Linked DNA regions of Homo sapiens. The protein of the gene in region 1 purifies or fractionates together with the protein of each later gene. This does not show direct contact. Each region holds a gene or a part of one and is shown in the gene's direction. Other genes may lie near its edges.

Region 1 (3,818 bases):
AAAGGCTTTGAGTGAGACAGAATGGGGTGGGGGTGTGGGCTGTGTGCAGGTCCCATCTTCCCATCTTGATGATAAGTTCCTCAAGGGGACCATCTGCCCACACATTTCCCTCTGCCTGTATGGTGCTCAGTGAATGAATGATTGCGTGGTCATGGGGCATTCATTTCTTCAGCTGATGTTCATCAAACACCTGATTTATCCAGGACACCATGCTAGGACACCATGCTAGGAATTATGGGTACATGAAAATGACCAGGACATGATTTTGCCTACGAGGAACCTGTGGTCCATTAAGGGGGAAAAGATGCATTCATTGATAGTACAAAGCAGGAATTAACGCCAAGAGATTCATATGAAGGACTCTTGACCCTGACAGGAGGCAGGGGTCACTGCTGACTGGGAGGGTCACAGGGAGGTAGCATTTGGACTGAGCTTTGTTTCTTGGGTAGGATTCAGGTTGCAGGGATGGTGTGGGGTGCAGGAGGAAGGAACAGCTTGGGCAGAGGCCCTGAGGTGGGGCAGTGGTGCAGGTGTCTGTGCGGGATCATGATGATGGCTTCCTTCCCCCTCGGGCTCCTGGCAGGAGTGTGTCATCTTCTGTGTGCGGGAGGAACCTGTGCTTTTCCTGCGTGCAGATGAGGACTTTGTGTCCTACACACCTCGAGACAAGCAGAACCTTCATGAGAACCTCCAGGGCCTTGGACCCGGGGTCCGGGTGGAGAGCCTGGAGCTGGCCATCCGGAAAGAGGTGAGGACCAGTGCGGTGTGCGGGAGACCCCAGCCCACAGCCCAGCTTTGCAGATGCTCTTTTTGGGGCCAGCTCACCTGCTCTTACTGGCCCGTGTTCCCCCACTGTTGTGCCCTGCTTGGGTGAGTGGCTGGCTGCAAGGCTGACTCACGGGCAGCCAGAGGAAGGACTTCCTATTCTAGCTCTCTTTGCCTCTGCCCCTTTCCCACCCTGCTTGTCTCCTTGATGCTCAATGTCCTTATTTAGAAAGGGGTCTGGTGGGCCGGGTGCAGTGGCTTATACCTGTAATTCCAGCACTTTGGGAGGCCGAGGTGGGCAGGAGTTCAAGACCAGCCTGACCAACGTGGTGAAACTGTGTCTCTACTAAAAATACAAAAAATTAGCTGGACGTGCTTGCGCATGCCTATAATCCTAGCTACTCGGGAGGCTGAGGCAGGAGAATTGCTTGAACCTGGGAGGCGGAGGTTGCAGTGAGCCGAGATCACACTACTGCACTCCAGCCTGGGCTACAGAGTGAAACTCTTTCTAAAAAAAAAAAAAGAAAAAGAAAAAGAAAGGGTTCTAGGTGAGTGAAAAGAGCGCTAGACCAGAAGGACCAAGGCTGCAGTTCAACGCTTTGAGAGCCACGAGCCTCTGAGTCAGTTCCCTCAGTGGGTCTGTGGGCCTGTTTCAGTATCCTCTGTCCTCCTCCTCCTCCATAACACAGAGGCTTGTGGAGGCCTCTGAGGCAGCTGACATACCATGAAGGTGTGTGAATAGAGTGTGGGGTCCCAGTGTCCCCAGAAACTTCCAGGTCAGGAACCGAGGCCATGCCGGCGCCCAGCTCTTTGCCTCTCCCATCCCCTCCAGGCCTCCTGTGTGCTCTGCTCCCCTCGGCTCCAGCTCCCAGCTGACCACACCTCCCCCGTCCTGGCACTGGTGGCTTTGTGAATTCCTGCACCCACTGGGCAGAGCCCTCCTGCCTTGCCCCTGTGTAGGCACCCCGATTCCTTCAGAACTCCCAGGAATGGCATAGAGAGCACTTCTGGCTGTGTAGTTCCCTCATGGGGGGCAGAAGCCTGCCTGTGGCCTCTGCATGGTCTGGTCACTCCAGAGCTCAGCCAGGACACTCAGGGAGGGTCTTGAAGTTCAGGCCATGGCCCTCTGACCCCCACACCTCCCTCTAGATCCACGACTTTGCCCAGCTGAGCGAGAACACATACCATGTGTACCATAACACCGAGGACCTGTGGGGGGAGCCCCATGCTGTGGCCATCCATGGTGAGGACGACTTGCATGTGACGGAGGAGGTGTACAAGCGGCCCCTCTTCCTGCAGCCCACCTACAGGTACCACAGGGCCACCCCCAGCCCTGGCCATGGGTGCTCCAGGTCCTGCTCTCCAGCTGCAGCCTCAGTTTCACCATCTGCAGGTTGGGCGGAGTCCCCCACACCCATGTCTCCCACAGTGGGGCCCATTTCCAAACAGTGCCCGGGAATAGGGGGTGAGGGGGATTCCCAGAGTGGGTGCCTGCCTGATGGCTGCTCTCCCTCACCTGGCAGGTACCACCGCCTGCCCCTGCCCGAGCAAGGGAGTCCCCTGGAGGCCCAGTTGGACGCCTTTGTCAGTGTTCTCCGGGTAACTGGGGCACGGGCGCGCATGGGGGAGGAGTCTTGAGAGTCGTCCCCATGGAGGTGCTCAGGGTGGGCACAGCCTCTCGCCTTCCTCAGAGGAAGGCTTCATTCTGTGTTGTGTATGTGAGCATGTTAGGGTGGACGTGTGTTGGTGTCTGTCTCTGTATATGTCTGTGTGTGTCAGCGCCTTTGTGTGTGTCTGTGGGGAGTGTGTGTACATGTTTATGTGTCTCTCTGTGTGTCTGTGTGTTCCTGTCTGTGTGTCTCTGTGTGGGGATACATGTGTTTCTGTGTGTGTATGTGTCTGTGTGTGTATGTGTTTGTGTGTGTGTACCTGTATGTAGGTGTGTGTTTGTGCATTCTCTTATGGCAGAGTCCATCACTGACCGCTGGCCCAGCTGCTGGCCGTGGCTGGGCTGCCAACTTGCTGTGTGGTCCCGGACTAATCACCTCACCTCTCTAGACCTCAGTTCCTCCTTTCTTTAGTGGAGCTAACGACTCTTGCCCTATAGACTGTTCAGCTGACATTTCCTGAGTCCTGGCGGAGTTTCTCTCCAGCCCCCTTCAGGGCATTATCTTATTTCACTGGCATCTTGCAGAAGGTGTTAATACTGGCCTGGTGCCCTCTGAGTCGCTCTCACTTCCAGTTCTTTGAGCTCCTCCAAGGCCTGGGGAGGGAGCAGGTGGAGCTGATCAGGCTGTGGCTTTGGCAGAAGAGGCCAAGACACCTATTGGAGCCCACTTTGCTGCAGACTGTGGGGCAGGGTGGGCTGATGTCATGCTTTTCTCCCTGCTCAGGCCTCAGCCCAGGGTTTCCTGGTCTCACTGGGGCCTGATCCTCATGGTCTTTCCCAGGAGACCCCCAGCCTGCTGCAGCTCCGTGATGCCCACGGGCCTCCCCCAGCCCTCGTCTTCAGCTGCCAGATGGGCGTGGGCAGGACCAACCTGGGCATGGTCCTGGGCACCCTCATCCTGCTTCACCGCAGTGGGACCACCTCCCAGCCAGAGTGAGTGGCCCGGGGCCCAGCGTCCTGAAGGGCTGTGGGGCCGAGGAGGGGACAGGCTGCCCCACAGTGTGGGGACATGTCTAGGAGCCCAGAGCCAGAGCTGGAAATTTGGCATCTGGGGTTCATTTCCTGGTTTGCCACGAGACTTGCTGGGAGACCTGGAGAAAGTCACCTGACCTTTCTGGGCCTCAGTTTCCCTAGTTGGGGAAATGTCCCCTGCTTCCCACAATGTGATTCAGAAGGAACCTGTAGTCTGGTGTCCCCCAGCGGCCATATGAGTGGAGACAGCAGGCGGGTGGCCGTGTGAGACCTTTGGAAGAGCCTGCTAATGTACTGACCCTGCCTCGACAGGGCTGCCCCCACGCAGGCCAAGCCCCTGCCTATGGAGCAGTTCCAGGTGATCCAGAGCTTTCTCCGCATGGTGCCCCAGGGAAGGAGGATGGTGGAAGAG
Region 2 (3,716 bases), on another chromosome or scaffold:
AATGGAAAAATTTAACTTTCAAGCCAGAAATATTTTGTGTGTTCTTATGAAACTATGTATGATGGCTTTCATTTGCTTAATGCTGAGATCTGTATTTGACTCGCTTGATATTGCATTAAGGAATAAACTTTATGTGATTGAATAGAGTGCGGAATTTAGAGAAGTATTGTTGTTGTTGTTTTCTGTTTGCTTCTCCATCTGAACTTTTTGGTAGTACATCAGACTTTAATTTAACTTGCCTTTCAGTTCTTAAAGGCAGAGAGGTATTGTCATTTCATGCCCGCTCTGAAACGTTTAGTAGACATAGTTACATGTCAGTGGTACATTGACTGTCTTTCAGGCAAGTGTTACTTCATGCTCCCTGAGCCTTCTAAAAGGACCTGGCCTGGCCCAAGTCTCTGTGCATTATATTCTTCTAATCTAAGTCTGTTTACTTTTAGGATTGTGCAGACTGGTGCTTAAAATGGAAGTCGATATTAATGGAGAGTCTAGAAGTACCCTGACCACCTTGCCCTTCCCTGGGGCTGAGGCCAACTCCCCGGGAAAGGCGGAGGCAGAGAAGCCCCGCTGCTCCAGCACACCCTGCTCCCCGATGCGGAGGACCGTGTCAGGCTACCAGATCCTACACATGGACTCTAACTATTTGGTTGGCTTCACGACTGGCGAGGAACTCCTGAAGTTAGCTCAGAAGTGCACAGGAGGTGAAGAGAGCAAAGCAGAAGCCATGCCATCCTTACGCTCCAAACAGCTAGATGCAGGACTTGCCCGTTCCTCTCGTTTGTATAAAACCAGAAGTAGGTACTACCAGCCATACGAGATTCCAGCTGTCAATGGCAGGAGGCGAAGGCGGATGCCAAGCTCAGGAGACAAGTGCACTAAATCTTTACCTTATGAACCTTACAAGGCCCTCCATGGGCCTCTGCCTCTTTGTCTTCTTAAAGGTAAGAGGGCTCACTCCAAATCTCTGGACTACCTCAATCTAGATAAAATGATCAAGGAGCCAGCTGATACAGAAGTGCTACAGTACCAGCTTCAACACCTAACCCTCCGAGGGGACCGTGTGTTTGCTAGGAATAATACATGAATGACTTGGAGAGAGCTTAAACCAATTTAGGTCAGCCTACGCTTGGCTAGAAAAAACCCACTGCTGTACTCTGTACATGACTCTTCACACTATAGATGGTTATATCAGCTAAGTGTTCCTGGAACATAAAAATTGTTTGGGTCAAATTTGAATACAGGAATGAAATCACAGGTACTTGGGGGGGGGATATCATTCTAGAGCACGCAACTGCAAAGAAAACAGAATGTTGACTGTTAGTTTGTATAGCTTTTTAGCTAGGAAAAAAAGGCTTTGGTACAGTAATTTCATCTTTATGATTCTGACACTCAAATTGGGAATGTTACCTGCTTGGTTGTTGCTGACTTGATATGATTCATTAGAAATTTATATCTTCAGTACTCAAGTACTTCTTGAATCTCTGTATTTTACTATAAAATGTATGTAATGATTTGTTTTATGAAATTTAGAACTTGAACATTGCTGAATTGGACCACTTTTTATTTTTAAATATTGAGTTTAAATATTTTATAACTGGTTTTGCACTGAAAAAATTAACATTTCAGATTGACAAGAGAGTAATCTTTCTTCACTTGCCTCAATAATGTTATTGAGCAATGAATTTTTTATTTCCGCATGGAAAGTTATTGATCTCTATGGCTGTAAAATATTTCTTTATAGCGTTATTAAAGTGTGTCTTAATAAAATTAAATTTGGGATACAAAGTATTTATTTTACAATGGGTGGGCGGGGGAAACTTTTCCAGAAAGTTTCCAATATGACGTTTTCATAAGTTGAAAAAACTCTCCTTAGTGCTTATTTTCTAACTTAAAATTCACCTGGAACTTTAAATGGGAAAGGATTCTTTTAATTGTGGATTATAGGCATAATACTGTTTGCATCTGAATTTTCTGTAAGTGAATAATAGTTTAATAGAGGAACTCATGATTTGTACTATTGAATGATTAAACTAAGTATGAAGTGATACCATTCAGCATGGCATCAGGTCATTGCAGTTTTAGTTCTGTGTAACACAAGCACTCACTGAAATTCCAGTTTCTAGGATTAGTGTAGGAGCCTAACGTGCTTCTACTGTTTTAATGGGTTAATCCTGGATTACTTAACAATTTATGTCAATTGCACTGGTTTAATTTGTTGCTAAAGAAATAATGCCCTGGGTTTAGTAACAAATACAGCTCAACTATTCTTGAATATATTTTGAAAAAAAAATGTATGTAACTTACCTTTTGTAAACGTTCCATTTCTTTTTTCCCTCATTTTTGACTCTTAAAGGTGCAATTTATTACTGAATTGGGATTTCTGGCAGCACAGAACTGCTTTTTATTTTGGGGTCTGTGAGTTTCTTAGGTATTAGCAATCTTGCTTATAAAATAAGAACACCTTTTAATTAATGAGTGGGTCATTCCTGGTGCAATTGTGATTTTTCTTTAGCCAGAATGAATGGCAAACTCTATTTAGAGCAAAGTAAGTATTAGAAAACCCTAGGAACTCTTAATCAACGTTTATTACACTTTCATTAAGGCAAACTACGTGAAAGAGCCTTGGGGAAGTTGGCCCATATCTTACTAAGTTGATCAGATTTCTCGTTGGGCTGGAAATGTTTCGCTGTTGTATATTTTAAAGTAAATTGCACCTTTGTAACATATTGTATTGACGAATGATCACTAAGATTAGCTATATCTATACAGTCATTAGTTTGACAAGAAATAGAATCCTGTCAGATGCCAAAGAGTGGGATTTTTATGTTTAATGATTAAACACCATTATTTATTGACAATTTACCCTGTGGAACTGTATTATTTCTAACTATGAAATAAAGGGGTGATGTAAACACACATTGTTGTGTGGTGCTTTAAACTAGGTCCACTATCAACAGGCTACTTACTGTTCAAGAATTCCACTGAAGCACTTATTTTAAGGCCCTATTTTTCTTAAACAAAACAGTGACAACAACAATCAAACCATTTACTTTTGATGCTCATTGGCATTTTATGATAAAAGATGTATTCATGGCAATGATATGTATTCACCCTATTAGGAAACACAACTGGTTACCTATGAGACCTGTTCTGTCCGTGTGCCTACGTTCCTTAATAATAGCTAAATAAAAATTTGTAGCTTTTTTTGTTTTGTTTTGTTTTTTCCTGAAAGACAGGTGAAACTCTGTGGCAAAAATAGGGGGGTTAATAGTATAAGATATGGCATACTTACTCTTTTTTGATTAGTAAAGATATATAATTTTAAATTTGGTTTTCTAGAAAGAAAGTTTCAAAACTCTAGGCCAGTAATTTTCACAATGTGTTTGCAGAACCCCTTTATTAGTTCAGTCTTACTTTCTCTGCACCCCATGGAATTGTAGCCTATGGTAGGTAAGAACCAATTTTTTTAAAAAAAGGGTAGGCTGGATCTCTTTTAGTTGAAAAACAATCCCTTTTGACATGGTTTCTATTTTTTAACTTTTTCATTTTTTATTCAATTTAATATTCCACACTAAATGGGGCACACTTGGCCAGAATATACCTGATGATATTATCTTACTGTTCTTGCCCTTAAACATTGCAGCACTATATAACTTTAATTTTTTTCTTCTTTTGCAAAAGTACCGTTTGTTTGAAGCTCAGATGATGCATAAAGT

The links.
Region 2: the proteins of PALD1 (region 1) and MACIR purify together in Homo sapiens (affinity purification with mass spectrometry; one large-scale study listed by BioGRID and IntAct). This does not show direct contact.

What each region holds. Positions count from the first base shown.
Region 1 is NC_000010.11:70,530,707-70,534,524, forward strand, and holds part of PALD1 (paladin), read left to right. Parts: intron 1-583; coding exon 584-748; intron 749-1,914; coding exon 1,915-2,075; intron 2,076-2,288; coding exon 2,289-2,364; intron 2,365-3,215; coding exon 3,216-3,367; intron 3,368-3,718; coding exon 3,719-3,818.
Region 2 is NC_000005.10:103,275,457-103,279,172, forward strand, and holds the end of MACIR (macrophage immunometabolism regulator), read left to right. Parts: intron 1-440; 5' UTR 441-463; coding exon 464-1,084; 3' UTR 1,085-3,204; downstream 3,205-3,716. UniProt on the Homo sapiens protein: Regulates the macrophage function, by enhancing the resolution of inflammation and wound repair functions mediated by M2 macrophages. The regulation of macrophage function is, due at least in part, to its ability to inhibit glycolysis.